Linked DNA regions of Homo sapiens. The protein of the gene in region 2 interacts with the protein of the main gene of each other region in a pairwise test. Each region holds a gene or a part of one and is shown on either strand. Other genes may lie near its edges. The genes, in order: MARCHF8, CYB5B, SLC10A6 and BNIP3L.

Region 1 (7,786 bases), on a different chromosome or scaffold from region 2:
ATAAACAGCTGCCTTCTTGCTGTGTCCTCACATGGCATAGAGGGAGGAAGGAAGCAAGCTGTCATGTGGCTGTTCATATAGAAGGACTGATCCCATGGAGAGGGTTCCACCCCTAGGACCTAATTGTCTCCCCAAGGCCCCACCTCCAAATACCATTACATTATGGATTAGAGTTCTGGCATAAAAGTTTTGTGGGAAACATAAACATTTAGTCCATAATAGTGTGTACATGGGGAAGCTATACAAACTTGTTTGGAATAGAAAAAGGAAAATGTCCAACAGTTAGGCCAGGAAGGGAGATTCTTTTTGATATACACCCTCACTGCAGGTTTACTGTAGGTGGTTATTTAATAAAGCCTTATTGAATTTATCTATTTGATGGGATTTTTAAGGTCTAAATAAATAGCATTAATCAATTATTTGTAGAATGGGGATTTTTATTGGTATTGGGAAGAAAGAGAAACCATTCTGTCTTACCTTAGTGTGGGGATGGTTTGAACACCCAGTGGCAGCCTGACAGTTCAGGGTGTCGTGGAGCCCAGATGAGGTGGCAGTAGTGGAAGAGCAGTTGAACCAGGAACTTGCAGGGCCCCGTGAGAGCTTCAGCAGCAATGGCACAGGATGAAAATAGTGGTTGTGTTTCTAGGGTCTCAATTGTGGTATCAGGTTTGATTTGAAAGGTAAATTTTTGTCCAGTGGAGCCCATTTTTATTTATGCAGTTTTTCCTGGCACAGGTTCAACCCAAAATCTTTTGCTATGATTTCTGATCCTCCTGTGCTTGGGAGATATTATTCCTACTGAGTCCCATAAGAAGAGTGAACCCTTGCATTTTACCTAGACTCAAATAATCCACCTGTTTGCTTAGTCTAATCTGTTAACACACCCTCGCTGAAGCCCATAACTTCTACAGAGGGTTAATGACTTTTATACAGTACTCAATACAGTTGATGAATGAATGAATGAGTGAATATGAATTCAGTTTCAGTGATATGGGTCATGTCACTGTGGAGATGATCTTTTATTTCAAATACAGTATGAGAACCTTACAATAGTATACTTTCATTTCTTTCCTTCTGGCCTTTTCATTATTGTCTTTTAATAAATTTTAAACCCTAGAATATATTTAAAAAAATACTTTCTCTTTAAATACTTTTCTTTTAAATAATAATAAAGATCTGTTTACTCAGATAATTACCATTTCTGGTGTATTTCCATCTATCATTTTTCTTTTGTCTAAAGGACTTTAGCATTTCTTATAATGTGAGTTGGCTGACAATGACTTCTTTCAGCTTTATTTAAAAAATATTTTTTATTTGTTTCTTGTATTCTGAAGTTGTGCTTGTGGATCAGTGGGTTTACAATTTTCATAGAATTTGGAGCTTTTTGGCTATTCTTCAGATACTTTTTCTGTCCCCCCATTCTTTCTTTGGGGACTCCAGTATACACATTGACTGGCTTAAAGTTGTCCACTGCTGCACTTTTAATTTTTTAAGGTTATTTTTTCTTTCTGCATTTTATTTTGGATATTCCAATTACTTTGTTTATAATTTCATTAATATTTTCTTTTTCAATATCTAATCTGCCAGTAATTCCGTCTAGTGTGTTTTTCATCTCAGACATGTTTTATCACTAGACATTTGTTTTGGATCTTTTTTATATCTTCCATGTCTCTATGCAACTTTTTTAGTATATGAAATAACAGCTATAATGACAGTTTTAGTCCTCTTTTCTGTCATTGTTGGCATGTGTGACTATTCTGAGTTTGCTTTTCTCCCTCACTTCGGTCAGTTTTATTTTCATTTTTGTTATTATTTTTTACTTATTTTTGAGTACAGATCTTGCTCTGTTGCCCAGGCTAGCATACAGTGGCGTGATCACAGCATACCGCAGCCACGAACTCCTGGGCTCAAATGATCCTCCTGCCTCAACCTCCCAAGTAGCTGGCACTATAGACCATGCCTGGATAAGTTTTTCTTTCATTTTGTAGAGTCGGGGTCTTGCTATTGCCCAGGCTGGTCTCAAACTCCTGGGCTTAAGCAATCCTCCCATCTTGGCCTCCCAAATTGCTGGGACTGCAAGTGTGAGCCACTGCACCTGGCCCAGTTTCATTTTTAAGTAAAAGTTTATTTCAGACTAGTTTTAGATTTACAGAAAAATTGTTAAGCTAGGATGGAGTATTTTCATATACCTGACACCCAGTTTCTCATATTGTTATTATTTATAGATTTAGTACAAGTGCAGTGTTGTTACACCACCTGAATAGTGCACATAAGCACCCATGAGGTAATTTCTCATCCCTCACCCACTCCCATCCTCCCACCTTTCTGAGTCTCCAATGTTATTATTCCACTCTCTATGCCCCTGTGTACATATTTTTCAGCTCCCACCTGTAAGTGAGAATATGTGATATTTGACTTGCTCTTTCTGAGTTATTTCACTTAAGATAGTTACCTCCAGTTCTATCCATGTTGCTACAAAAAAACATGAATTCATTCTTTTTTTATAGCTGAGTAGTATTCCATGATGTGGATTACTTTATCCAATCATCCGTTGATGGGCACTTAGATTGATTTTATGTCTTTGCTATTGTGAGTAGTCCTGCAATAAATATTTGAGTACAGGTATCTTTTTGATATAATGATTTCTTTCCCTTTGCGTAGATCCCCAGTAGTGGGATCACTGGATCAAATGGTATTTCTATTAGTTCTTTGAGAAGTCTCCATATTGTTTTCCATAGCAGCTGTACTAGTTTACACTCCCAACAACAGTCTGTGAGCATTCCCTTTTATCTGCATCCTTGCCAACATCTGTTATTGATTTTTTTGACACCTGAGTAATAGCCATTCTGACTGGTGTGAAATGGTATTTCATCGCTTTTATTTGCATTTCTAACTTTTTAAATGTTTCTTGGCCATTTGTATGTCATCTTTTGCAAAATATGTGTTCATGCCCTTTGCCCATTTTTTAAAAAGGTTATTTTTTTCTTGTTGAGTTCTTTGTAGAGTCTACAAATTAGCTTTTTGTAAGATGCATAGTCTGCAGATATTTTCTCCTGTTCTGTAGATTGTCTGTTTTCTCTGTTGATTATTTATTTGCTGTGTAGAAGCTTTTTATTTTAATTAAGTCCCATTTGTCTATTTTCATTTTTGTAGCTTTCCTTTTGAGGTCCTAGGCATGAATTCTTTGCCTTAGGCCAATGTCCAGAAGAGTTTTTCCTAGGTTTTCTTCTAGAATCTTTATAGTTTCAGATCTTTCAGGTCTTTATACTTTCAGGTCTTTAATCCATCTTAAGTTGATTTTTGTATATGGTGAGAGATATGGGTCCAGTGTCATTCTACTGTATATGGTTACCCAATTCTCCCAAGTATCATGTATAGAATAGGGTGTTCTTCCACTAGTGTATGTTTTTGTTGACTTTGAAGAAGATCATTTGCCTGTAGGCATGTGTCTTTAATTTGGGTTCTGTAAGCTGTTTCATTGACCTGTGTGTCTCTTTTTATAATAGTTTTGGTTGTTATAGCCTTATAGTACAATTTGAAGTCAAGTAATTTGATGCCTCAAGTATTGTTCTTTTTGCTTACCATTGCTTTGGCCATTCAGGCTCTTTTCTGGTTCCTTGGGTATTTTAGGATTGTTTTTTCTAATATTGTGAAAAACAATGTTAGTATTTTTATAGGAATTGCATCTGCAGATTTCTTTGAGTAGTATGGTCATTTTAATGATACTGATTCTTCTAACCCATGATCATGTTTGTGTCATATGTGATTTCTTTCGTCAGCGTTTTGTAGTTTTTCTTGTAGAGATCTTTCACATCCTTGGTTGAGTGTATTTCTGAGTATTTTATTATTTTTTTGTAGCTATTGTAAATGGGATTGACTTCTTGGTTTGGTTCTTGATTTGGTTCTCAGCTTGATTATATCATTGTTGTATAGAAATGCTACTGATTCCTCCTCACAACAAAAAATACAAAAATTAGCTGGGTGTGGTGGCACGTGCCTGTAAGTCCCAGCGACTTGGGATGCTGAGGTGGGAGGATCACTTGAGCCCAGGAGGTCGAGGCTGCGCTAAGCTATGACTGCGCCACTGTGCTCCAGCCTGGGTAACAGAGTGAGACCGTTTCAAAAACAAACAAAGAAACAAACCCCAACTAAACAAAAGAAATACTACTGATTTTGTAGGTCGATTTTGTATCCTGAAACTCTACTGAATTAATTTATCAAATTTACGAGTGTTTTGGAGGAGTCTTAGGGTTTTCCAGGTATAAAATTATATCAGCAAACAGAGATAGTTTAACTTCCTCTTTTACAATTTAGATGTCTTTTCTTTCTTTCTATTGCATTACTGCTCTGGCCCGATAGGACTTTTAGTACTGTGTTGAGTAGGAGTGGTAAGAGTGGGGATCCTTGTCTTCTTCCATTTCTTAAGGGGAATGCTTTCAACCTTTCCCCATTCAGTATGATGTTGGCTGTGGGATTCTTGTATATGGGTTTTATTATTTTGAGGTATGTTCCTACTACACCAAGTTGTTGAGTGGTTTTTATCATGAAAGAATGCTGAATTTTATCAAATGCTTTTTCTGTATCTATCGAGATAATATGGTTTTTGTTTTTAATCCTGTTTATGTGGCAGATCACATTTATTGATTTTTGTATGTTAAACCCTACTTGTATCCCTGGAATATAACCCACTTGATTGTGGTGTACCATGTTTTTTGATGTGCTGTTGGATTTGGTTTGCTAGTATTTTCTTGAGCGTTTTTGCATCTGTGTTCATTAGGGGTACTGATTGATTCTGTTTCTGTTTTTGTGTGTCCTTGCTTGGATTTGGTGTTAGGGTGATACTGGCTTCAGTTAGAGAGGATTTTCTTCAATTTGGGGGAACAGTGTTGTCAATAGGATTGGTACCTATTCTTCTATGTCTGGTAGAATTTGGCTGTGAATTCATCTGCTTCTGGGGTTTTTTGTTGTTGGGAGATTTTTTTTTATTTTTATTACTGGTTAAGTCTTACTGGTTATTGGTCTCTTCAGGCTTTCTCTTTCTTAGTTCATTCTTGAGAGGTTGTGTGTCTTTAGGAATTTACCTGTTTCATCTAGGTTTTCTAGTTCGTTAGTGTAGAGATGTTCATGGTAGACTCTGATGATCTTTTGTATTTCTGTGGTATCATTTGTAGTGTCTTTTTCATTTCTGATTGTGCTTATTTGAATTTTCTTTCTTCTTGGTTAATGTAGCTAGTAGGCTGTCAATTTTGTTTATCTTTTCAGTGAAGCAACTTTTTGTTTCTTTATCTTTTGGGTTTTTATGATCTGGATTTCATTTAGTTCTGCTCTTCATCATTTCTTTTCTTCTGGGTTTGGTTTGTTCTTGTTTTTCTAGTTCCTTGAGGTACTATGTCAGGTTAACTTGTGGTCTTTCTATTTTTTTCGATTTAGGCATTTAACGCTATAAACTTTTCTTTCTTGAATCCATTTACAGTCAACACTATAAGCTTTTGCTGTATTCCAGAGGTTTTGGTATGTTGTGTCTCTACTTTTGTTTAAAAAATTTTTAAACTTCCATCTTAATTTCATCACTGACCCAAAAATCATTCAAGAGCAGGTTAATTTCCATGTATTTGTATAGATTTGAGAGTCCTTCTTGGAATTGACTTTAGGTTTTTTCCACTGTAGTCTGAGAAGACAACTTGAAATGATTTCAGTTTTTTAAAAATTTATTGAGACTTGCTTCATTCCTTAAGATAAGGTCTGTCTTGGAAAATGTTCCACATGCTAATAAGAAGAATGTATATTCTGTGATTGTTGGGTAGCTTGTTATATAAACATCTGTTAGGTCTATTTGTTCTACAGTCCAATTTAAATCCAGTGGGGTTTTTTTTTTCTTTTTTTTTCTGTCTCAGTGGTCTGTCTAGTGCTGTCAGTGGGGTGTTGAAGTCCCCTCTTGTGCTATAAAGGAATGCCCAAGGCTGGGTAATTTATAAATAAGAGATTTTATTTGGCTCACTATTCTGCAGACTGTACAAGAAGCACAGTGGTTGTGTAAAAGTGCCTGGCCTCCTCTCTTCAGCCTGGCTTGTTGGCTGGTAGCAGCAGCTGCTCAGGGCTCGGAAGCCTGTGTACTCCCATGTGAGTTTGAGCAATGCCTCTGTCAATCTCCAGGCAACTCACTCTATTAGGCTGGAGACCTGCGAGGGTCAAGGGGGTCTCCCACAGCTAGCGTTGCAAAAGTCCATGGTGGGAATGTGGAGCCCTGGGAGTCTCTCATCTACCCTTTCCCAGCATCTAGAAGCTTCTTTCATCTCTCAGCAATCCTGGCTGAGCACGTGCCTTGCTTCCTTCTCCTTTGTGATCAGTGATTCCTGTTGCTTTTCAGTTGAATTCCAGTGTTCTGTTTTAGATGACCTATTTGAAGGGTGAATATCTACTCGCCGTTTTGGAGCTTTCCATGGAAGAGGCATGTACTAGCTGCATCTAGTTAGCCATCTTGAACCAAGCTTCCAGTTTCTCATATTATTAACATCTTAAAATAGTGTGCTGCATTCATCATAGTTAGTGAACTAATATGAATACATTATAGTTTTAAAGTCCATGCTTTATTCAGATTTCCCTACTTTTTAACTAATGTCCTTTTTGTGTTCCAGGATCTCATCTCTAGGATGTAGCATATTACATTTTGTTGTTGTATCTCCTTAGGCTCCTCTTGGCTATGACAGTTTCTCAGACTTCCCTTGTTTTAGATTACCTTGACAGTTTTGAAGAATACTGATCAGGTATTTTGTGGAATGTCCTTCTATGGGAATTGTCTGATATTTTTCTCATGACTAGACTAGGGTTATAGGTTTTGGGATGGAAGTCCACAGATACAATGTACCAGTTCATCACAACAGATCGAGTATACTATCAACATGATTTATGACTGATTTTCTTGACCACCTGGCTGATATAGTGACTATCAGGTCTCTCCACTATAAAGTTACTCTTTTTCTCCCCTTTTGTACTTCATTCTTTGGAAGGAAGTCACTAGGCATAGCCCACTTTAAAGAATGGGGAGTTGTGCTCCCCCTCCTTGAAGGTGGAGTCTTTACATGAATTATCTGGAATTCTTCTACATGTCTGGAACCCAAATTGCAAGATTGTCCAAAAAATACATTTTTCAATTTTCTGCCCTGTCCTCCTTGATAAAGGGATCCTGAAAGAAATGATCTGTATCCCAGGATTCCTGAAAGGTGATAAGTAAGAAGGTAATTCAATGATCAACTTATATTTAAAGTAAGCTACACAGAAAATAAAAGTGGTATTTTATATATTTATAAACAGTCCTAGTTTTGGCCCTGTTGTCCTGCTACTGAGGTCAAAAGGAGGATTTTACCATGCAGCATCAGGATGATGGTCAGTAAACACAATTTCGTATTTGCTCTAAAAACACATGAGTATTGATAGATCATACTGTATTCATTTGTACCTAACATCTTTTGAAAAAATGACCTCACAATGTTCAAGTGATAACAATATCTTTAGACAGAATCACCACACTTTTACTACTTAAAAATTATTCTCTTTTCTCTATTAGATAAATTCTTCCCTTTTAAATAATAAAAACCTAATATAAGGAACTTGGAGAAAACCTCTTGAATTTTAACATTGCAGTATCTCCAGAGCCATGTGGGCAAACTCCCAGTTTAATGCTTGAACCTACTCTGTATTATCATGGCCAGTTTGTTTTTAGGGCACCATTAGGGCATCAGCCCTGATGCTAACCCACTACTTCGAAAGGCGGTTGTTTTGTGCTTTT
Region 2 (8,735 bases):
GCACCATCTTGGCTCACTGCAACCTCCACCTCCCGGGTTCAAGCGATTCTCCTGCCTCAGCCTCCTGAGTAGCTGGGATTACGGGTGTGTGCCACCACGCCCAGCTAATTTTTTTGTATTTTTAGTAGAGACGAGGTTTCACCATTTTGGTCAGGCTGGTCTGGAACTCCTTACCTCATGATCTGCCCACCTTCGCCTCGCAAAGTGCTGGGATTACAGGTATGAGCCCACACCCAGCCAGTGGGACCCCAATTCTACAAAAAATTTTAAAAATTAGCCAGGCGTCGTGGTGCACACCTTTTCCCAGCTATTCGGGAGGTTGAAATAGAAGGATCACTTGACCCCAGGAGACTGAGGCTGCAGTGAGCTGCACTCCAGCCTGGGTGAAAGTAAGACCTTGTCTCAAAAAACAAAACAAAAAAAACAAAACTGCAGGTAAAGAGCTGCAGCTCAAGCTCCAAGAGAAACCTTGGCACATTAGTGATGTCTCTGGCTATATCAGCATGTGGTTGAAACAGGTTAGTTACTTCTGGAATCTTCACAGAGGAAAAAAAAAAAGAAAGAAACAGGTTAGCAACTATTACTTGAGACTGAATTAATGCTCTCTGTAAGGGCTGAGTGTTCCCTCCAAGCTCACCATCTATTCTGAATCAATCAAGAAAAAAAATGGAGGGAAATAAAACCACAAATGAAAAACATGATTTTTTTTTTCTTTTTTTGAGATGGAGTCTCACTCTGTCACCCAGGCTGGAGTGCAGCAGCACCATCTCACCTCACTGCAGCCTCCACCTCCCAGGTTTAAGCGATTCTCCTACCTTAGCCTCCCAAGTAGCTGAGATCACAGGTGCCACCAAGCCTGGCTTATTTTTGTATTTTTAGTAGAGACGAGGTTTCGCCGTGTTGGCCAGACTGGTCTCGAACTCCTGAACTCAGGTGATCTGCCCGCCTGTGCCTCCAAAAGTGCTGGGATTGCAGGCATGAGTCACTGCGCCCAGCCAAAAAACTTGATTTTCTACCCATTATGAACCATGCTTTAGCATGAAACTTACTATGAAGCAAATACCAGAAGTCATAGCTAAGGCTAGAATTTTGAAGTAATGCTATGCAGACAAGAGAAATCAAGGGATCTGTCAAATCTGCTACTAATTGATTGTATGACCAGGATCTTTCTGAACCTGTTACTTGTACCTCTGTTAAAAAAAAAAAATCACTACTATCCAAGTCACCCTCCACTAGCTTTTTTTTTTTTTTTTTTGGAGTCTCGCTCTGTCGCCCAGGCTGGAGTGCAGTGGTGCAATCATGGCTCACTGCAATCTCCGCCTCCCAGGTTCAAGTGATTCTCCTGCCTCAGCCTCCTGAGTAGCTGGGATTACAGGCGCCCACCACCAGGCCCAGCTAATTTTTGTATTTTTAGTAGAGTCGGGGTTTCACCATGTTGGTCAGGCTGGTCTGGAACTCTTGATCTCGTGATCCGCCCGCCTCAGCCTCCCAAAGTGCTGGGATTACAGGCGTGAGCCACCACACCTGGCCGGGAAAGTACTTTTTTTTTTTTTTTTGAGATGGAATCTCGCTGGGTCCCCCAGGCTGGACTGCAGTGGCGCAATCTAGGCTCACTGCAAGTGCCACCTCCCGGGTTCACGCCATTCTCCTGCCTCAGCCTCACGAGCAGCTGGGACTACAGGCGCCCACCATCACGCCTGGCTAATTTTTTGTATTTTTAGTAGAGATGGGGTTTCGCCGTGTTAGCCAGGACGGTCTCGATCTCCTGACGTCGTGATCCGCCCGTCTCGGCCTCTCAAAGTGCTGGGATTACAGGCGTGAGCCACCGCGCCCGACCGGAAAGCACTTTTAAAAGCATAAAATGCCATACACCATACAAATGCAAGAAGTTAGTAAATTCTGAGTTTGTTAAATTATTGTTCACTATTAAGATTTATTAAAAATAATGTTCTTTGGGGGAAACTTTTAAATTTTAAAAGTTTTTAGAATTAAAAGTCAGGATGCAGAGATTTCTCTTTTAGGCCCCAAATTAATCGAAAAAATATTTCACTAGTATATTTGCTTCAGAGAAATAGAAGTGAACTTTCACAAGTCATTAATCTATTGCTCAAAATAAAATGATCACACACAAACCGAAAATCAAAGCTTCAAACATACACACACCGAAAATCAAAGCTTCAAACCAATCTTTAGCGGCTGCATATCACTAGTTGCCTGGGGTTGGGAGAGAATGACTGCAAAGGGAAAGGAAGCTTTTTAGAATGATGGAAATGGTTTATGTCTTAACATGGATGAATACATTTTTCAAAACTCATCAAAATGTACATTTTAGATAGGCACAATTTACGTATGTACATTACACCTCAATAAAGTTTTAAATATTTAGAAGTCTATCCTGTTTCCTTAAAAAAAAAATTAGTTGCACCATGGTCTCAAAAATAATTTTTAAAATGAGATGTAATGCAACAGACTTGAAGATTAAATAAAACAGTCTTGAATATTTAAGAAAAATGACAAAACATGAGTCAAAAACAAAAAAAAAGGGTTGATTTATGAGTTTCTGGCCTCAAGGTCAACTCAGATTAGGGGGAAAAAAAAACAGTGGAGGCATAATCAAGATGGGGAAGCGTGTGGAGAGAAATCTCAGCTTCTACTCTAGAAGACGAAAACCAAAACCGGTATTACTTCAGAAGGCACACTGGAAAAGCACAGATGTGGGTGCACTTCAGACCTAGGTTCAACGGATCTAAGCTGCTAACTCTATGGCCCTGAGAGTCCTCAACCTGTGAGCCTCAGTTTCCCTTTCTGTAAAATAAAGATAATGATGGCTTAGAGTTTAGCTGAGCACACAGCAAATGCTCGACACATAAGTAATACATGATATTACATAAGGCACCAGAACTCGGAGCTGACTGGAAATGCATGCAAACTAAAGCCCTCCCCCAATCCCACCCCAGTTTCCCTCTGAGGGTCGTGATCCCTTTCTTACGCCTTATCGCCCCCAGCCAAGCCTCCCTTCCTTCCCACATACACTCCACACAGCCTTTTCACCCCTCGCCCCAGCAGCTTCAGAGGCCTCCCACCTCCCAGGCCCCACCTCGTTGAGGAAGCGGGTGACATCGTAGACTCGCCCATGGATCACAAGCCACAGTTCCTTCAAGGAGTTGCGCTTTGCCACCTCCTCCAACCGGTAATAGGTGACTGAGGTCTCGACTTCCTGCCCTTTCCCATCGCTGCCGCTAGCTTCCGCAGTCGCCATTGAACCGGACATACTGCCTCTCCACCGCTAACTGAGATTCCGCGACTACTTTCCTTGAGAGCCCGCGCTCAGCCTTCCTCGGCTTCCGTAACCAGGGCCCATAAGGCCTTGAGACGGTTCCTAGCAACAGCCAATCACACTTCCGAATAGTTCCTGGTTCGTTTTCTTTTCACCAATGAAGGGAGTGGCTCAGTTCGAAATCCCGCCCACTCCTCGCCCGATCCTCCAGATGAAAGTCTGGTTCGAGGTCCAACTAACCAATTAGGGTCGTTCAGCCCCCTCCAACCTCGCCAATCAGATACCGCGATTTTTGGACTGGCGCCCAAAAGAGGCGTGCTGACAGGTGTCACTTCAGGAGAGGTACCACTTCTCTCAGCCTGTGGGCCTTTAGGGTCTCCAGTGTTCTGCTTCCCTTCCCATCGCTGTGGCTTTCTCCTGAGTCTCAGAAAGTTCCTATCCCCTACACTACCGGCGCAGCCTGTATCCCAACCCTGATTTTACATCTTTGCTGCCTCCAGGTCGTGATCTGGCCAATCCCGTCTCTCCTCAATTTCCCCATCAGTAAAATGGGCTTGATAAAGCACTCTCTTACAGAGGGGTTTGCCTTTTTTTTTTTTTTTTTTTTTTTTGAGACAAGTTCTCGCTCTGTCTCCTAGGCCAGAGTGCAGTGGCACGATCTCGGCTTACTGCAAACTCCGCCTCCCAGGTTCAAGCGATTCTCCTACCTCAGCCTCTCGACTAGCTGGAACTACAGGCATGCGCCACCACGCCCGGCTAATTTTTGTATTTTTAGTAGAGAGTAGGTTTCACCATGTTGGCCAGGCTGGTCTCGAACTCCTGACCTCAGGTGATCCGCCTGCGTAGGCCTCCCAAAGTGCTGGGATTACAGGCGTGAGCCACCGCGCCTGGCCCGGTTTGCCTATTTTAATGAGAGTGCCTGTAAAGCGCTTGGCGCATAGTAATCGCTAAACATGGCAGTCGATTAGAAAGGCAATTGCTGTCCCGGACAGCAATTGGGGGTAGAATGTGGAGTATCCTATGTTTCTACCATCATTCAGAATCCGATTTTCAAACGAATTCTGTGATGATCAGGATCAATCGGCACTATTTTAGTCTCTACGTGATCTAAAATAGAATTGAACTCAACTGCTCTCCGCTAGAGGTCCCAGCACTTTGGAATTCCAAGTTTGGTTAAGGTACAGTGTTGTGCGCCACTTTTTAACTGCCATTACAACTGACAGATTGCTCTTCCTATGATGTCGTCGTTTTCATCCTGTCACTCTCGCAGTCTACCATTCAGGGCTCTCCACAATCCATTCGCAACCTCTTTCACTAACGTATAATATTTTCCACCATTCCCTTTATAAGCCTGTTGCACCCGCCCCGACTCTGAAACCTGCTGGTTTAAAACCACATCCGTGGTCATCCCAGGTCCACCAAGTTAATTTTAGATCACTTAGAGACTAAAATAGTGCAGATTGATCCTGATCATCACAGAATTCATTTGAAAATCGGATTCTGAATGGTGGTAGAAACATGGGATACTCCACATTCTACCCTCAATTGCTGTCCCAAGGACTCCTCTTCCTTTCAATGCCTACCGGCTTTTCAAGTTCCTCTTCAGTTTCTTCTATTTTCAAACTTCTCCTACCGTTTTGAGCTCCAGTGCTTCCATCCCTTTGTAGTACCTAAGAAAGCATATTACTATTTTGGGAAGCCTGCTACGTCTGTAAATTTTAACTTTACGTATTTTACCTCCCTAGTTAGACTGACACTATGAGAGCAATCTCACAAGATTCTTAGGATCCTCCACAAACTCTAGATTCAAATATTTACATTTATTCCAGACATTTACTATTTACTGTTACAAGTCTTATGATAGGCATTGGGAGTAGAGAGATAACATAAGAAACAAAATCTCTGAAAGAAATAAAAACATTTACAGGCTGAATGTGGTGGCTCAAGCCCCGTAATTCCAGCACTTTGGGAGGCCGAGGTGGACAGATCACTTGAGCCCAGGAGTTCAAGACCAGGCTGGGCAACATAGTGAGGCTCTTGTCTCTTCAAAAAATACAAAAATTATCTACGCATGGTGGCACACAACTGTAATCCCAGATATTTGAGAGGCTGAGATCTGGGGATGGCTTGAGCCTGGGAAGTCGAGGCTGCAGTGATGTATGATCGCACCACTGTGCTCCAGCCTGGATGACAGAGCGAAACCCTGTTTCAAAAAAATAAAAATAAATAAATAAAAATAAAAAATAAAAAAATTACAAATTCTAGCACTTAAGTGATATATACCTGTAACATTATATTTGAAAATGTTTTTAGAATTTCAAATAAGTAAGTTACAAGAATAATACAATGAATGACCATATACTTTTAGCTTAGGTTTACCAACTGTTAATATTTTTCAATATTTGATTTTTTCCATATTATTTTGATCATTGTTGTTAATAATGCTGAACTATTTCAGATATCACCACCCTTTACAGCCAAATAATTCTACATGTATCTTCTAAAAATAAGAACATATTGTCACGTAACTGCAGTATGAATTTCAAATTCAGAGAATTTAACATTCACACAAAATTATTATCTAACATACTCTCCATATTATTTTCCATTATTGCATTCATGTCCTTTGTGAAATTTTAGTGTGCCTGTATGACCCAGGATCCAGTTCAGGATCATGTATTGCACTTAGCTAAGTCTCTTGAGTCCCCTTTAATCTAGAACATTTCCTTAACTTTGCTTTTGCTTTCATGACATTGACATTTTTAAATAGTATAGCCTCAAATTGAATTTTACACTGAAAAATTATTGTGACCTAAATGTTTTGGTTATAAATTTATATTTACAATTGATAGCACATGTTAGCCAGAAAGTCTGGCTTGGAATACCTGTCCCTGCCACTCACAAACTTGGTGACCTTGGGCAGGTTTCTTAGCCTCTTTTTTTCCATGTGGATACCCACTTGTTCCTGCACCATTTGATGAAAACACAATTCCCCCTTGAATTGTTTTCCTGTATCTGTCGAAAATTGATTGATCATATAAGTGTGGTTCTCCTTCTGAAATTTCTACTCTGTTCCGATGACTTATTTGTTTATCCTTGTGCCAATTCCACAGTCTTGATTATTGTAAGGCACTAAATCAGGTAATATAAGTCTTATAGCTTTGCTCTTAACTTTTGAAAATTATTTTTGCTATTCTAGATCCTTTGTATTTCCACATACATTTTTTTTTTTCACTCTCATCACCCAGACTGGATGGAGTGCAATGGCACAATCTCAGCTCACTGCAACCTACACCTCCCGGGTTCAGAGTAGCTGGGATTACAGGCCCCCACCACCACACTTGGCTAATTTTCATATTTTTAGTAGAGAGGGGGTTTCACCATGTTGGCCAGGCTGGTCTCAAACTCCGGACCTCAGGTGATCCGCCCACCTCGGCCTCCCAAAGTGCTGGGATTACAGGCATGAGCCACCATGCCCGGCCCCACACACAATTTAAAATCAGCTTGTTGACCAAGTGATCAAATTAAAACATCTCCATAATAAATCATGTTGACAGCATGTACCCCCGGTGTGATGTGATGAAAAGGGCATGTTGCCACTGTGGCATTCTTCCACAAAATCCATAACCATAGTCCAAGCATGGGAAAAACATCAGGTAAACCCAAACTGAGGGACATTCTACATAATGCCTGACCAGTACTCCTCAAAACTGACAAGCTCATAAAAAAAAAAAAAAAAAAAGGAAAGATTGAGAAATTGTCACAGACTCAAGTAAACTAAGGAGACATGACAATTAAACGCAGTATAGTATCCTGGACTGGATCCTAGAACAGAAAAAGGGCACTGGGGAAGAATTAGTGAAATCCAAATAAAACAGTAAGGTGCCAGTGTTGATTTCTTACTTTTGACAAACATATTATGGTAATGTAAAATGCTATCTTTATGGAAAATTGAGTGAGTATACAGAAACTCATTGTATTATTTTTGCAACTTTTCTGTAAATCTAAAATTATTACAAAAAAAGTTATTATTTTTTGCTGGGCACTGTGGCTCATTCCTGTAATCCCAGCACTTTGGAGGCTGAGGCACAAGGATTGCTTGAGCTCAGGAGTTCAAGACCAACCTCGACAACATAGCAAGACCTCATCTCTTTTTTTTTGAGACGAGTCTCACTCTGTCACCCAGGCTGGAGTGCAGTGGCATGATCTAGGCTCAGTACAACCTCCGCCTCCCGGGTTCAAGCAATTCTCCTGACTCAGCCTCCTGAGTAGCTGGGATTACAGGTGCCCACGACCATGCCCAGCTAATTTCTTTGTATTTTTAGTAGAGACAGGGTTTCACCATGTTGGCCAGGCTGGTCTTGGACTCCTGACCTCAGGAGATCCGCCTACCTCGGCCTTCCAAAATGCTGAGATTACAAGCGTGAGCCACTGTGCCTGGCCTGCAAGACCTCATCTCTTTAAAAAAATGTAAAAATTAGCTGGGCATGGTGGTGGGCACCTATAGTCTCAGCTGCCTGGGAGGCTGAGGCAGGAGGATTGCTTGAACCCAGGAGTTGGAGGCTACAGTGAGCTATGATTGTGCCACTGCACTGCAGCCCGGGTGGCAGAGTGAGACCCTGTTTCTAGAAGAAAAAAAAAAAAATCAGCTTCTTAATTTTACAAAAGTGCTTATAGATGAATTTACAGAAAAAAGACACCTTAAAAACCTTACATTTCATGAACCATTTACTTCAGTTTAATTTGTAGTTTTCAATGTAGACATCTTTAGCATCTTTTATTAAATTTATTTCTAAATGTTTCGTTTTTTAATGCCCCTATAAATGAAATTATTTCATTTTCCAATTGTTTGCTGCCAGTCTAGATAAATATAATTGATTTTGTACATTGACTTACTATCTTATACCTTGCCAAATTCACTTATAGTTCCTGTAATTATTTTATGGATTTCTTAGAATTATCTATGTAATAAATATGTCGTCTGCTAATAGAGACAGCTTTGCTTCCACCTTTCTTCCCAATCTGTATGCCTCTTTTTTCCTTGCCTTGTTGCACTGGCTAGGACTTTCAGTACAGTGTTGAATAGAAATGGTGAAGTTAGCATCCCTGTCTTGTTCCTAATCTTAGGAGGAAAGCATTCAGTCTTTCACAATTTAATATAATTTTTCAGTAGATGTCTTTTATCAGCTTGAGGATCTTGAGGATCTAGTTTCCTGAGTTTGTTTTATTTTTATTTTGTTTTTATTAAGAAAGGGTGTTGAATCCTGTTGAATATTTTTTCTTTTCTTTTCTTTTCTTTTTTTTTTTTTTTTTTTTTGGTTGTTGTTGTTGTTGTTGAGACAGGGTTTTGCTCTGTGGCCCAGGCTGAAGTGCAGTGGCACGATCACAGCTCACTGCAGTCTCAACCTCCCGGGCTTGCAAGCAATCCTTCCACCTCAACCTCCCAAGTAGCTGAGAC
Region 3 (7,786 bases), on a different chromosome or scaffold from region 2:
GCAGTGAGTCAAGATCAGGCCACTGCACTCCAGACTGGGTGACAGAGTGAGCTCCAGCTAAAAAAAAAAAATAAAAAAAAAAAATAAGAGTGTAACAAGAGTGAGATCAATTTTTCAATGCTGGCATGACAATTAGAAGGGACTGATCACATCCGGAGTAGGCAAGATTGTGAAATGTAGCAATCTTTTTGGAAAGTAGTCTGAAAGTATATATTAAAACAAAAAACACAGACTTTTACATAGCAATTCCACCTTGGGAATTCACAGAAAGAAAAGAATCATTTCAAGTGAAGTATGTATGAGAGTGTTTATTATAACATTATTTATAATGGCAAAAAACTAAAAGCAACTGACCTATGGTTAATGAAGTGATTGAAGAAATTATGGCATATTTAGATTATGGCATATTTCGCAGTTCTTTAAAAGAATAAGTTTAAATGTATTGGTCTGAGAGGATGTCTGTGATAGATGAAGTGGGAAAAAAAGCAAACAAGTTGCAGAGTAAGGTATATTATAAGGTTCCTTTTTTTATTTTTAGAGACAGGGCCTCCTTCTGTCCCCAAAGCTGGAGTGTTGTGGTGTGAGCATAGCTCACTGCAGCCTCAAACTCCTGAGCTCAAGCCATCCTCCTGCCTCAGCCTCCCGAGTAGCTGGGACTACAGGTGTGTACCACCACATTCAGCTAATTTTTGTACTTTTTTTTTTTTTTTTTTTGTAGAGACCAGGGTCTCTCTATGTTGCTCAGGCTGTTGTTAAACTCCTGGTCTTAAGCAATCCTCCCAATTCAGCCTCCCAAATTGCTGGAATTACAGGCATGAGGCACTGCACCTGGTCTGATTCCTTTAAAAAGAAAAAATAATGAAAGAAAAAAATCCTATTGATTTAACAAACAATCATGAAATAAATGGACTGCTTAAAAGAAAAATAAAAGAGTAGAAGGATGTACACAAATACTTGCAAGTTATCTAAGTTTGGATTTCTGAAAGGAGCACCAATCAGCTAAATATTTGCTTCTTAAAATTTTACTTGCTTTTGTCTGGGAAGAGCATAATTTTTTTTTTTTTTTTTTTTTTTTGAGACACTGTCACCCAGGCTGGAGTGCAATGGCATGATCTCGGCTCACTGCAACCTCCATCTCCCAGGCTCAAGCAATTCTCCTGCCTCAGCCTCCCGAGTAGCTGGGATTACAGGCGTGTGCCACCATGCCCGGCTAATTTTTGTATTTTTTTTAGAGATGGGGTTTCACCATGTTGGCCAAGCTGGTCTCGAACTCCTGACCTCAGGTAATCTGCACGCCTTGGCCTCCCAAAGTGCTGGGATTACAGGCATGAGCCACCATGCCCTGCTGGGAGAGCATAATTTTATAGAAAGTCTCTTTTTCTGGATTGCTATGGGGCTGTTTACCATTTGAACTAAGTATAAAGGGGTCATTTCAGTAAGATTTTTACCAATGTTCACCTGGAGATACGTGACATATGACGGAGACAGAGAGAATATTTCCATAGCACCAGTGTGTTGACATTGGTTCATTCTTTGATTCATACATTTATTCAGTAAGTATTTAACGAGCTCTTCCAATATGCTGCAGCGTGAGACTATGCCAGGTCTCCTAGAGATGGAGAGGAAAATAGGACCTGGCTGTCATGCCACTCACTCTGGCACAGATGGACAGGTACATAAGTACTTGTGTAGGGTACAGCATGTGTATAATTCATGAGCCAATGTCAATAAAACCATGTCCAGAGGGCCATGGATTCAGAATCCTAGAAGCAGGATCGCTAATTTTCCTAGATATTGCCAGACACCCTCTGTGGTGTACCATTTTTACCAGCAATGAGTGAGAGCACAGAGGGAATCTTTTTAGTATCATTGAAGTAAAACAGATGCTGCTTTGTCAAGAGTATAAACATTCTTCTGGCAGAAAATGTTAAAGTAGTCATAGACGTATTATTTTATAGACAGGGTAATTGGATGGAAGCAATGGTGATATATATTAGGAGGAAGAGTGACAGATGACTTGTAGACCCAATAAAGTGCTGAAGGACCTTCTGTCTATGCAGAAGACCTTGACGTATGAAGGGCCTCCTCCCTCTCCTTTGTAGAGCAGGAGGGCAGTCTGCTTCTCAGTCTGTCAGTCATTTGTGCCTTGAGCACAGAATGAGCACAGTGTCTATAAACAGTTTGTACATGCTTAAACAGATTGTGTAATTTTTTCCAGCAAATTGAAAGATAAAATATTTGACTGGTCTGATGGGTATCTTCTTTCCATTTATTTTCTTTCCCCTAATTTTACTAATGCATTCTTTCACTGGTTCTATCACTCAGGTAGGTACAAAATACAGCCTTAACTTGCGATTTGGGAGTGAGACTGAGATGGAAAGAATAGATTTGGGATGGAAGGCACCAAAAAGTGGGGTAAGGTTGAATATTTCTTCAGTTCTCATCCTCCCTGATTTTTATTGGCTTTTAGCCTTCATTTGGGAGCTTTCTTTTCTTAGCTTTCATGAAATATAACCTCCCAGCTCTCCACTGACTTCTTTTTTAAATTTTATTTTTAATTGACAAGTTAAATTATGTATATTTATGGTGTACAACATGATGTTTTGCTTACTTGCTTCTCAAATCCCAGCCTGCCTGCCTGCCTTCCTTCCTTCCTTCCTTCCTTCCTTCCTTCCTTCCTTCCTTCCTTCCTTCCTTTCTTTTTCTTTCTTTCTTTCTTTCTTTCTTTCTTTCTTTCTTTCTTTCTTTCTTTCTTTCTTTCTCTCTCTCTCTCTCTCTCTCTCTCTACATGCACCATGGGCTCTTCTTCCTCTCCCTGGTTTAGAGCAAAGGAGGCTTTACAATATATAAAATATTAACTATCAGTTAATGTAACTAAGTGCTTTTCCCTAAATAAATTTAGACCAAAAATATATATGGAAAATACAAAAACACAGTATATTATGGCCGGGCGTGGTGGCTCATGCACTTTAGGAGGCCGAGGCGGGTGGATCACCTGAGGTTAGGAGTTCGAGACAGCCTGGCCAACATGGTGAAATCCCATCTCTACTAAAAATACAAAAATTACCTGGGTGTGGTGGTGGGCATCTGTAATCCCAGCTACTCAGGAGGCTGAGGCAGGAGAATCACTTGAACCCAGGAGGTGGAGGTTGCAGTGAGCCGAGATTGCGCCACTGCACTCCAGCCTGGGCGACAGAGTGGGACTCCATTTCAAAAAACAAAACAAAACAAAACCCCAAAAAATCTGCAACAAATTACAAATGTGTGAAGCAGTAACTTAGTTCATATAATGTAATAACAATATAGTAATTGTCTTAGTCCATTTTGTGCTGCTGTACAGGATACCTGAGACTGGTTAATGTATAGAGAAGAGAAATTATTCCCTTACATTCTGGAGGCTGGGAAGTCTAAGATGAAGGTGCTGGCATCTATTGTCTGGTGAGGTCCTTCTTGCTCCTCACGTGGTGGAAGAGAGAAGGGCAAAAAGGAACAAACTTCCTTGGTGGAGTCCTCTTAAAATAGCATTAATTCATTCATGAAGGTGGATTCATTGTGACCTAAACACCTCCCAGAAAGCTCCACCTCTCAATACTGTTGTCTTAGGGATTTGATTTCCAACCTATGAATTTTGGAGGACACATTCAGACCATAGCAGTAATCACGATACACAGTTTTTGAGGACTTCAAACCAAGTACTCTTCCCCCTCTGTCACAGACATTATGTACTTAAAAGTTCTTAAGAACCATTGCGCTTAAAATGTGTTAGCCTTTTGACTTAGAAACAATTAACCTCAATAATAACAGAGATAAACAAACCAGTTTTCCAGTAGAAATCATTCTGGATTTGTTGAACAAAGACCACAACTTCCTTCTGATGGTCTCAGTTGTTTTCCTGGTAAAGCTATGTAGCATGGCTGTTGGTTTTGGTTTGGTTCGTCCGGCTCACAAACCCACATTTCACTTTCCAAGGTGGCCAGAGACAACCCCAGTAATGACACAGATAAACAGACTGATTGTCTTTAGAAATCTTTCCAGGTTTGTTCACCAAAGACTGGATGTCCCACTATCACCTTACTTAACACAACCCCTCTAACTGATGCTAAGTGACTCAGCTTTTTTGTATATCACACCATCATTTTGAAGCCTAGAAATCTTACTTTGTACTCTAACTCATCACTCTACTTCAATCTCAAATCTCAGTCCCTTCCTTTTCTTTTCTTTTCTTTCTCTCTCTCTCTCTCTTTCTTTCTTTCTTTCTTCTCCTTTTCTTTCTTTTCTTCTTTTCTTGTGTCTTTTCGTCTTTCTGTCTTTCTTTTTTTTTGAGATGGAGTTTCACTTTGTTGCCCAGGCTGGAGTGCAGTGGCATGATCGTGGCTCACTGCAACCTCCGCCTCCTGGGTCCAAGTGATTCTCCTGCCTTAGCCTACCAAGTAGCTGGGATTACAGGCACCTGCCACCACACCCAGCTAATTTTTGTATTGTTAGTAGAGACAGGGTTTCACCATGTTGGCCAGGCTGGTCTCGAACTTCTGACCTCAGGTCATCTGCCCGCCTTGGCCTCCCAAAGTGCTGGGATTACAGGCATGAGCCACCATGCTTGGCCCAATCACAGTTTCTAATCATAGGATCACACGATATCAGGATTGGAACAGAATTCTTAATTCAGTCTAGCATCTCACATCAGTTCCCTTTCTCTGTGGTTCTGTACCTTCCCTTGCCCTAACCAACTTGCTCTGTCTGCAGGTCAGCGACTGTGGGGGTCACTGCCCTATCCAATGGGGAGCTTATGGCATGTGGTGTTTGCGTGACTTCTTCCTGACAGATATTTATTAACACTTCATACTGGGCAGGCGTTCAGTCAGCTTTGTGGCATTCTAACTTGCTGATGTGGTTTGGGTGTTTGTCCTCTCCACATCTCATGTTGAAATGTGATTCCAGTATTGGAGGTGGGGCCTGGTGGGAGGCTATTGGATCATGGGGTGGATCTCTCATGAATGGTTAATGCCATCTCCTTGGTGATAAGTGAGTTCTTGCTTAGTTAGTTCACATGAGATCTGGTTGTTTAAAAGTCTGGGACCTCCCCTTTCTCACTCTCCCTTGCTCCCTCTCTGGCCATGTGAGATACCTGCTCCCCCTTCCCCTTTGCCTTCTACCATGATTGCGAACTTCCTGAGGTCCTTACCAGGAGCACATGCTGGAACCATGCTTGTACAGCCTGCAGAACTATGAATCTCCTTTATAAATTACCCAGCCTCAGGTATTTCTTTATGGCCATGCAAACAGCCTAATACACTTCCAATCCCCTTGGTACCAGAACTAGATATCACAAGAAAAGAAAACTGCAGATCAATAGTTCTTATGAATATACATGCAAAAATTTTCAATAAAAATACTATCACACTGAATCTAGCAACATAAAGGATTATACACCATGACCAAATATGATTTATTTCAAAATGCAAGGTTGATTCAATATACAGAAAAATCAATGTGATATACTATATTAATAGAATAAGGACATAAAAAGAATGAAGCTGTGATATATGTTAAAACATGGATAAACCTTGTCTTAGCCCATGTGAGTTGCCATGAAGGAATACCTGAGGGTAGGTAATTTCTAAATAAAACAGGTTTATTTGGCTCGAGGGTCTGCAGGCTGTACACAAGAAGCAAAGTGCCAGCATCTGCATCTGGTGAGGGCCTCATGAAGACCCCACCCATGGTGGAAGGGGAAGAGGAGCAGGCATCACATGGTAAGAGAGGGGAGGGAGGTGTCAGACTCTTTTTAACAACTAGAGCTCATAAGAACTGAGTGAGAACTCAGTGAATCCCACGAGAATGGCACCAGCCTGTTCATGAGGGATCTGCCCCTGTGACCGAAATATTTCCCACTTGCCCCCGCCTCCAACGTTGGGAATCAAATTTCAACATGAGAGTTGGAGAGGACAAACAGCCAAACTATTATCAAACGTCGAAAATGTTATGCTAAGGGAAAGAAGCTAGACACAGAAAAAAGGCTGCATGTATGATTCTGTTGATATGAAATGTCCAGAACAGGTAATCCTATAAAGACGGAAAGTAGATTTGTGCTTGCTAAGGGCTAGGGGAAGGAGGGATTGGGGAGTGACTGCTAATGGGGATGGGGTTTCTTTCTGGGGTGATGAAACTATCCTGGAAATGGTGCTATTATTGCATAATGTTGTGACTATACTAAAAACTGCTGAATTGTATAATTTAAAATGATGAATTTTATGGCTTGTGGATTATACTTCAATAAAAAAGAACTAGATAAGAAAATAATTCTATAGTGCCTAGCAGAATTTTAAGGCAAGTAGATAGTAAAATAAATATGAGGTAATTGATGGATGACAAGAACTACTGGAAATCTCTTTGTAGACCAGAAATATAGCCATCGTTTGTTAAACAACGGGAGAGAAATGAGCTCCAAGGAGCTTAGTCCATGTAATCTCTAGGAAATTGTGTCCTAGGAGTTGCTTTTGGTAAAGACTAAATTCTTCATGTCCAATGCTCCCTCCTAAGCATTGTATTAATTTTACTTTCAGCATCAGTATGACAACCTGTTCCACCGTGGCCGCCCTGGGAATGATGCCACTCTGCATTTATCTCTACACCTGGTCCTGGAGTCTTCAGCAGAATCTCACCATTCCTTATCAGAACATAGGTCTGTATGGGCCTGGGAAATGGAGGACTAACAGTAATGGTGATGATACTAATAATAGCTGTTCTTAATTATATAACTCTTTATGCAGGGATTTTTTTGGTAGTACTTAATTTAATCCCTTAAAGAACCCTACAGTATAGATTCTGTTACCAGTTCAGTCTCCTAGGTCTTCAGGCTTCAAGAGGTTTAGTAACTTGATCAAGATTATGCAGCTGGTAAGTACGGAACTGGAGTTCTAACCCGGGAATCTGACTACAAAGTGCAAACTTTCATCCCTATAAGAGTGCATTTTTGAAAAAAAAAGAAAGCCAGATAATTTACTTTGAAAAAGCAGGAATCAAACCCTTATGTAATTAGACTATAAAGCAATTGGACTCTTTATACTCCAAGGTTTAACTGGATCTAGTGGCTCTAATTAGACCTTCCTGTGACTTCACCTTTCACATTGCCTGCGAACCTTGACTTTTTCTTGGAGGTTGAATGTAAATAATTCTTACTGATTATGAAAACTCATCTACATGTCACAGTCTCACCCATATCTCTTTCATTATCTCCTCTTCTGAATATTATTTCTCATGAAAGTCTGCCATTTTCCTAAAGATCTCTGTGGGTTTAGCAAGCTTAGAAGAGAAATGTGGTGAAATGATCTGCCTTTTCTAGTGTGGTCAGTTTTTGAAAAAGTGATAGGCACTATGTTTTTTTGTTTTTTTTTTTTGAGACAGAGTTTTGCTCTGTCACTCAGGCTGGAGTGCAGTCGTGCAATCTCGGCTCACTGCAACTTCTGCCTTCTCCTGCCTCAGCCTTCCGAGTAGCTGGTACTACAGGTGCAGGCCACCACACCCGGCTAATTTTTTTGGTATTTTAGGAGAGACAGGGTTTCACCGTGTTGCCCAGGCTGGTCTCAAACTCCTGAGCTCAGGCAGTCCACCCACCTTGGCCTCCCAAAGTGCTAGGATTACAGGTGTAAGCCACCGTGCCTGGCCAACACTATGATTCTTAAGACTCTCAGTGTCAATCTGGTGTCTCAGGTAAACACCTTGAAGGCTTACAACCCATGGCCCATAGTTCAAAACCATGAATGAACCCACTTCCTCACAATAGCGG
Region 4 (8,411 bases), on a different chromosome or scaffold from region 2:
CCTTATTCGGCCCTATTGAATCTTATTCAAACATTCTTAAGGAAGTTGATAGTTTTCTTAACAATAAAACAAACTGGACAACATCCTTTTGACTTGGAAGGAGTTTGGGTATTTGCCCTGTAATTTTTAATGAAAGTGAACAGTCTCTCCACAGCGGTAAAGTTAAAAAAAAATCACAAAAATACTTCACTATTCAAATACTTCAGTAATTTGCTATTGAAACCCTGCTTTGACCCCTGAACCAAAGATAAAATCCCAAACGCAAGATAATCTGTACATTTCTTCTCCTGTTTTTCAGTTGTGCAACTTTACCCAACAAAGTCCTTCGACTTATCAGCAATTTGGATAGTACTAGATGCCTGAATAAGTTGTTTTGCCCATTGCCCAAAAATCACTTCAAGGAATTCAATGAGGCTTCTTGTTTTGTTCAGTACAGTGTTGTGTAATGAGCTAAAAAAACGAACAGAGTGAGAGGCAAGAAGGGAGTAATTAAATATGGCAATATCTAAAAGCTTTTCAGAAAGCTCACCCTATCCCACACAAAATACTTTCTATCTAGCAGATGTCCCAAAGCAACATTTTGATGTCCCATGCAGGCTGAGTGTACTTCCACCTCTGTAAGAGCTGATGTCAGCCAAGCAGGAACCGACTGGCCAAAGACATCAAACTCCTCATAGGTCTGTCAGACACCAAGATAAACAATGACATATGGCTCAGCCCCCGCCCTCGCCCCTTTTTTTTTTTGAGACAGAGTCTTGCTCTGTCACCCAGGCTGGAGTGCAGTGGCGTGATCTCGGCTCACTGCAACCTCTGCCTCCCGGATTCAAGCGATTCTCCTGCCTCAGCCGCCTGAATAGCTGGGATTACAGGCGCCCAACACCAAGCCAGGCTAATTTTTGTATTTTCAGTAGAGAGGGGGTTGTTCTCTCACCATGTTGGCCAGGCTGGTCTCGAACTCCTGACCTCAAGTGATCCACTCGCTTTGGCCTCCCAAAGTGCTAGGATGACAGGTGTGAGCCATCGTGCCCTGCCTGGCTCAGCCCTTTTTGTTGTTGTTGTTAAAGGGTCAAAGGAAGATGAAAATCCCTTTGCTTTCAGTGAAATCACGTACACCTACCAAGTATCTTCACTCATAAGAAAACTGTACAATTAAGAAACAATACTAAAAAGAAACAGAAAGGTTGGCCACCTTTGTCAATTAGGTAGAATAACACACTGACAAAATAAGACACACACACCAGCAGGAGGTTCTGCACCACTGAAAAGAAGCCGGTGCGATGGCTCAAGCCTGTAATCCCAGCACTTTGGGAGGCCCAGGCGGGCGGATGACGTGAGGTCAGGAGTTTGAGACCAGCCTGGCCAACATGGTGAGAGACCAACAACCCCCTCTCTACTGAAAATACAAAAATTAGCCTAGCTTGGTGTCGGGCGCCTGTAATCCCAGCTACATGGCGAAACTTCGTCTCTACTAAAAATACAAAAATTAGCTGGGCGGGTGGCAGGCACCTGTAGTCCCAGCTACTCGGGAGGCTGAGGCAGAAGAATCGCTTGAACCTGGGAGGCGGAGGTTGTAGACAGAGCGAGACTCTACCTCAAAAAAAAAAAAAAAAAAAAAAAAATGTCCTCAAAAGAGCAGTAGACAGGCTGAACATGAGAACCTCTGCTTTGCTCCCAGCCGGTTGTGAACTTGGACAAGGCCATTTACTCTAGACCTGTTTCTCTACAGGCAAACAACAGGAGGCAGTTAGCTAGCTCTGAAGTTTCTTCCCATTCTAAAATCTAAGACAGTATGCTAAACATGGGCAAATAACTTAAAATTGCATAGGAATATGTGATACAAGTAACGTTTAAAGACTCATACATTCATCCTAATTTACTGTGGGAAATAATATAACCATCTTACATTCTGGAATATATGACACTTAAAGGTTTTGGGAATTAACCCATCAAAACCTGGAGCAGCAGCATCCATCTTAAAATCTCCAAACTCCATCGCTACCTGGTGAGGGCTGAAACTCTCTTCCCTAAAATAATCTTCAGGCCACACTGGAAGCACCTCCCTCTTACGAAAGATACTGCATGACCTTTAAGCATCCAAGTGGTTTTGAAAAGACTTCATCTGGCCATATGCTCACTGCTCCCATTACCTCTTTCCCAAGAGTTGAATTAAAGAAAGGTTAGGCAAGAACCCTTCCAAGAAGGCTCCCGGTTCTCACGACTAGGAACAATCTGAGGACAAGATGTCTGGGCAGCGGAATGTTATGAAAAGACCCTGGCCTGGGTTGTCTATCAGCCTCGTCCGTTAACTTTCAACTGCCCGAGTGCGTTTTTAATTCCGTTTCTTTAAATGCATGGCCCCAGACTCCCTGACGTGTGCAATCTTGGGTGGTTCAGGAGGCTGCTCTCAGCTTTACTGGGCGCACAACCCATCGCTTTAAAAAAAAAAAAATCACTTGGGCAACTTCGAGAAATCTAATAAAAAAATAAAAAAGGAAAAAGGAGAAGCAAGGCACAGCCTCTCACCCCACACGTGACTGAAGCCAACCCTAGACGAGCAAATGAATTTTCCTGACAAACGTGTGGCAACAAAGGAATGCTCGCTGGGGGGCTCCCGCGCCCGCCAGACGCTGCCCGCCCGCGAGCCCCGCACACCTGATCCCCGACACGTCCCGCGGCAGCCGCCCGCCCCGCCCCGCTCCCGCGCGTCCATCCCCCGGCGTCCCCGCCGCACGTCCCCATCCCGGCCCACGTCCCCTCCGCGGCCCGCTCCGCCCACCCGGCCTCCCCGCCCCCCAGGCCCGCCCCCGCCCCGCCCCGCCCGGCTCCGCTGCTGGGGACCACCCCCCGCACCAGGGGGATCCGCGCTACCCGCGCCGCTCCCGGACCGCGAGCCCAAACGGCCCCGGGCCCAAGACCCCAGGAGGCAACAGAGAGGCCCGGAGCAAGGCAGGCGCCCCTCCTCTTGACAGGGGACGGGAGCTGTCAGTCACCTGGACATCCCATGCCTGAGCCAATGAGCTGCCTTCTCCTCCCGCCTCCCGCGCCGCGCCGGTGGCGGCGGCCGGGGCTGCTCCTCCTCCCCCATCCCCTTCACAGAGCCTCGGCCCCGCACTCACTGTTGAGGCCGGCCGGCGGGGGCAGAGACTGCTCATTTTCCTCGCAGTTGTTGTTGTTGTTGTGCAGGGGCGGCGGCGGCTCGACTAGGTGGGACGACATTGTCGGACAGCTGGCAGGACTGCGGCAGCAGCAGGACCGTCTCCGGCACTCAGGCAGCAACACAACAAGCCGAGTCCGCCGCCCCCTTTTCTGCGCCTGCGCCGTCCCTCCCCTGCCCCTGACGTCAGGGCCCGCCCAGGCCACGTGATGACAACACAACAAGCGACCGGACGGGGCAGGGGCGCTCCCCTGCGGGCCCCGGACGTGGAGACGCTCGAGTCAGGCTGACGCGCGCGCCGGGAACGAACTCTTGCGTGTGACTTGGGATGACCGGATGGGATGAGTGATGCCAGTGGCAGTGGGAGAGAGGATGAGGAGAAACGGAATGAGGAAGTGCGCTCCTGTGTTCGCGCCCGTGCCTCCTCTCACACAGGCTCCACAGTGCTTCACCCAGCCCTGCGCACGCATCTGTTTTCTACCTCTTAGGACTCACTTCTGCAATAGGTGTCTTGGGGACACAAAGGAATCCCCAAACCCAGGTGCCTCCACGTGTAAACTCCAAATAAAGCTGCTGAAACATCAACACTCCATACGGGAAACAAGGGAAGGCCGCCCCCAAATTTAATTGTTACAGAATTTTTAAAATGTCGATTACAAACACACCATCATTCTGAAAAAAAGAGAAAGAAGAAAGGGGAAGAAAGAAAAAAGAAAAATTCAGGAAAACAGAGAGAAGAAAGTACTCACCCAAATCCCATCGACTAATCGATTTCTGGGACATGACGTGGGAAGCCGTTTATCCTGTACGTGGATGACATTAAACTATGTTCCTGAGCACACCTCCTACTTCACATCTCCATGTCTTCGTCCAGTCTCCTTGGTCTGATTTATGAGTGACATATGTTTCTCGCAGTCTCTAACTTGTCTTTTAATTTGTTTTTTTCACTCTGTAGAAGCTTAAGGTTTTCATGTAATCAGATTTATCATTCTTACATGGCTTGGGGAGACAGTCACACCAAGATTACTAATCTATAATTCCCTTATAACTTTTTCTAATTTTCTTATAGGCTTAACTTTACATTTAGAGCTCTAATCCATCTGAAATTTATTTTCCATATGCTGTAAATTATTTAACTTCAATTCTTCCCAATTTTGTAGCCCATTGACCTAATAATATTAATTTTAAGCCATCCTTTCTACACTGATTTGAAATTGCACCTTTGTCACTCTCTGAATGACCACAAAAATGTGAGTCTGTTTCAGGGCTATCTGCAATACCTCTGTTAGATAACTATTAAAGTTTCTCTTCCTTTGTCTTTTTCAGATGTTAATGGCTAGTTACTCTTCAGATGAACTTAAAAATGGACTTGTCCAAGATTGACCTTGTGTTGGTAATTATTGAAGCTATGTAATACATTAAAGTATTCCTCTAATTTTTTAATATATTTGAAAAAGTCCATGCTAAAAGGTTTTTTTTAAGGATTGATTTGTCAAATCCCTTTGCAAATTCTTTTAAGATTTTGGTCAGAAATGAACTCTATTAATAGATTGAGTGCTGTTTCCGGTCATACCCGGAAGCAGGAGTTCAAGCCGCAGCTGGTAGGGATTGGCGGCTGCTGGCCATCTGAGTTTTATTAAAACTGCTCGCCGCGAAGCCAGTCTTCAGCCAGAATGTCCAGCAGAAACAACAACAAGCTGCCCAGCAACCTGACTGCAGTTACAGAATCTGATGAAGCGAGACCCACCACCCTCCATCTAGGAGTTTCTACAGCAGTATAATCACTACACATCCAATGTGGAGATTTTCAAATTGCAACCATATAAACCCGGTAAAGAACTAGCAGAGCTGGTGGTGTTTATGGCACAGAACGTCCTAAATATGTGCATCTGAATAATAGGAGAGAAAGAGAGAAACTTCAGAAGAGCCTTTGCTTTGTTATAGATTAGTTACTGCTACCCAGGGTATCTAAGTAATTTTCCTCAAGTGGTGAAAGATCTTCTGTCCTGTAATCATACTGTATTGGATCCAGATCTTCGAATGACATTTTGCAAAGCTTTGATCTTGCTGAGAAATAAGAATCTCATCAATCCATCAAGCCTGCTAGAACTCTTCTTTGAACTTCTCTGTTGCCATGATAAGCTTCTGCAAAAGACTTCATACACATATATCGTGACTGATATCAAGAATATAAATGCAAAACACAAGAATAAAGTGGATGTAGTATTGTAAAATTTCATGTATACCATGTTGAGAGATAGCAATGCAACTGCAGCCAAGATGTCTTTAGATGTTATGATTGAACTCTACAGAAGGAACATCTGGAATGATACCAAAACTGTCAATGTTATCACAACTGCATGTTTCTCTTAGGTCACCAAGATATTAGTTGCTGCTTTGACATTCTTTCTTGGAAAAGATGAAGATGAAAAACAGGCCAGTGACTCCGAATCTGAGGATGACGGACCAACAGCAAGAGACCTGCTAGCACAGTATGCTACAGGGAACAAAGTTCCCAAAACAAGAAAAAGTTGGAAAAGGCAATGAAAGTGCTCAAGAAACAAAAGAAGAAGAAAAAACCAGAGGTGTTTAACTTTTTAGCCGTTCACTTGATTCATGATCCCCAAGATTTTGCAGAAAAACTACTAAAGCAGCTTGAGTGCTGTAAGGAGAGGTTGGAAGTGAAGATGATGCTCATGAACCTCATCTCAGATTGGTGGGAATTCATAAGCTCTTCCTCTTCAATTTCTATCACTTTTTGCGAAGGTTTCTGCAGCCCCACCAAAGAGAAGTAACAAAGAACCTTCTGTTTGCTGCACAAGCATCTCATCACCTAGTACACCCAGCGATTATTCAATCATTGCTTATGACTGTGGCCAACAATTTTGTTAACGACAAGAACTCTGGAGAAGCCATGACAATAGGAATCAATGCTGTAAAAGAGACAACAGCTCAGTGTCCTCTGGCCATGACTGAAAAGCTTCTCCAAGACCTGGCTCAGTATAAAACACACAAGGATAATAATGTAATGATGTCTGCTAGAACTTTGATTCGGCTCTTCCGAACACTGAATCCTCAGATGCTGCAGAAGAAATTCTGGGGTAAGCCTACAGAAGCCTCCATAGAAGCAAGAGTACAAGAATATGGAGAATTAGATGCTAAAGGTTACATTCCAGGAGCAGAAGTTCTGGAAGTTGAGAAAGAGGAGAGTGCTGAAAATGATGAAGATGGATGGGAAAGTACCAGTCTCAGTGAGGAGGAGGATGCCGATGGCGAATGGGTTGATGTGCAACACTCTTCCAATGAAGAACAGCAAGAAATTTCCAAGAAGCTGAACACCATGCCCATGGAGGAGCAGAAAGCCAAAACTGCAGCCGTCAGCACCAGTCGAGTTTTAAGTTAGGAAGACTTCCAGAAAATCCGCATGGCGCAAATGAGAAAAGAACTTGACGCTGTCCCCGGGAAATCCCAGAAGAGGAAATATATTGAAATCGACAGTGATGAAGAGCCGAGGGGTGAATTACTTTCTCTTCCGGACATTGAACGCCTTCATAAAAAGCCAAAATCTGACAAAGAGACAAGACTAGCAACTGCAATGGCTGGAAAGACAGACCGAAAAGAATTTGTGAGGAAGAAAACCAAAGTGAATCCATTTTCCAGTTCAAAAAGTAAAGAGAAGAAAAAACAGAAGAACTTTATGATGATGTGGTATAGCCAGAATGTCTGGTCAGAAAATAAGCGTTCCTTCTGAGAAAAACAGTTGGCGCTGCGAGATGCCTTTTGAAAAGAGAAAAAGAATGAAGTAACTTCCCAGAAAGTTTTCCATTCCAAGAAGAATGCTAAGTTTGTGTCATTACTCTGAAAATTGGTAAATCAAGCATGTTTGTTTACATTAAAAAGTCCAGAAGCACTATATTATGAAAACTGCTGAAAATGTGGCAGCAATTTGGTGTTTTTATTTTGGGGACAGCTAATGATGGGAAATGTTAATGTAAATAGTGGTGGTAGTGTAATATCATTTATCATTCATGCAAAAAAAAGTATTGAGTGCCTATTAATTGTCACTGTAGATACAAAATGACTGAGTTGTAACTACCCCTTCACTCAAGGCATTGACAGCTTAGTTGTGGGGGTGGACACAGACGTGTATTTACAGTGCAGTGTAAATAGTTCTCTAGTAGAGGTAGGTCCACATTTCTATGCAGACACTGAGGCCTTATGGACTAACTCTGTGGGGATGGGGGTTATATATTCCTGTAAAACAAAGCAAAACAGGACAATTGTAACAAGAGTAAGAGGTTCTTTCTTGCATATAATAGGCTTACCTGCTGAAAACAGGCCCCTGCTGTACAGATTTTGGGTACATAATTTAGCTCTTTTAGTCAATCCAAAAGATTTAAATGACCCCCGCTTTTTTTTTTTAATGCCATGTAAAGGCTTTTTGGTTAAGACCTCACTTTTAAAATTGCCTTAAGTGTAAATAGTACCTTTGGAATGTATTTAGTTCATCATTTGAGATGCCTTCATACTGGTTTCCTCAACCTTCCTTCACCCTGTATTATTTTCAGCCCACCGTTTGTCTCAATAAAAGGTTTCTAATGCCAAATGATAAAAAAGAAATTGAGGGGATTATTGACATATTTATAGAATTGTTTTCCCAGTCAGGACTACGAGATCCCACTTTGTTCTATTTTCCTTTTAGGTGCTCCTTTCAAAAGGTTTTAAACTTTCAAAAAAAAGTTTTTTATTAATCATGTGCTATTTTATTTTTATTTTTTTGAGACAAGGTCTCATGCTATCACCCAGGCTGGAGTGCAGTGGTACAATCACAGCTCACTGCAGCCTCAGCCTCCCGGGCTCAAGTGATCATCCCACCTCAGCTTTCCCAGTAGGTGGAACTACAGGTGCCTGCAATCATGTCCAGCTATTTTTTTGTGTTTTTTGTAGAGACAGAGTTTTCCTGTGTTGCTCAGGCAAGTCCTGAACTCCTGGTCTTATGGGATCCCCCTGCTTCAGCCTCCCAAACTGCTGGGATTACAGGCATGAGCCACTTTGCCCAGCTTACTATACTCATTTTATTGAAAATAATTAGAAAGTTTCCTTTTCTCTGGTCTTACATAGATGACATTGAAATTACTTTCTTTAAGGAGATGTTATAATTCCCTATGGAAACATTGGGGCCTGATGCTTTTAGGAAGGTCATCTCTGTTTCTATAGGATGTTACTTTTATTTCTTATTTTATGTTGTTTGTCCTCT

What was found.
Region 1: the proteins of CYB5B (region 2) and MARCHF8 interact in binary tests that used the Homo sapiens proteins (3 or more experiments, as listed by UniProt).
Region 3: the proteins of CYB5B (region 2) and SLC10A6 interact in binary tests that used the Homo sapiens proteins (3 or more experiments, as listed by UniProt).
Region 4: the proteins of CYB5B (region 2) and BNIP3L interact in binary tests that used the Homo sapiens proteins (3 or more experiments, as listed by UniProt).

What each region holds. Positions count from the first base shown.
Region 1 is NC_000010.11:45,524,815-45,532,600, reverse strand, and holds part of MARCHF8 (E3 ubiquitin-protein ligase MARCHF8), read left to right. Parts: intron 1-7,786. UniProt on the Homo sapiens protein: E3 ubiquitin-protein ligase that plays several important roles in innate immunity and adaptive immunity.
Region 2 is NC_000016.10:69,419,220-69,427,954, reverse strand, and holds the start of CYB5B (cytochrome b5 type B), read right to left. Parts: upstream 3,337-8,735; 5' UTR 3,272-3,336; coding exon 3,098-3,271; intron 1-3,097. UniProt on the Homo sapiens protein: Cytochrome b5 is a membrane-bound hemoprotein functioning as an electron carrier for several membrane-bound oxygenases.
Region 3 is NC_000004.12:86,832,202-86,839,987, reverse strand, and holds part of SLC10A6 (sodium-dependent organic anion transporter), read left to right. Parts: intron 1-6,563; coding exon 6,564-6,682; intron 6,683-7,786. UniProt on the Homo sapiens protein: Transports sulfoconjugated steroid hormones from the extracellular compartment into the cytosol in a sodium-dependent manner without hydrolysis.
Region 4 is NC_000008.11:26,377,936-26,386,346, reverse strand, and holds the start of BNIP3L (BCL2/adenovirus E1B 19 kDa protein-interacting protein 3-like), read right to left. Parts: upstream 3,294-8,411; 5' UTR 3,217-3,293; coding exon 3,117-3,216; intron 1-3,116.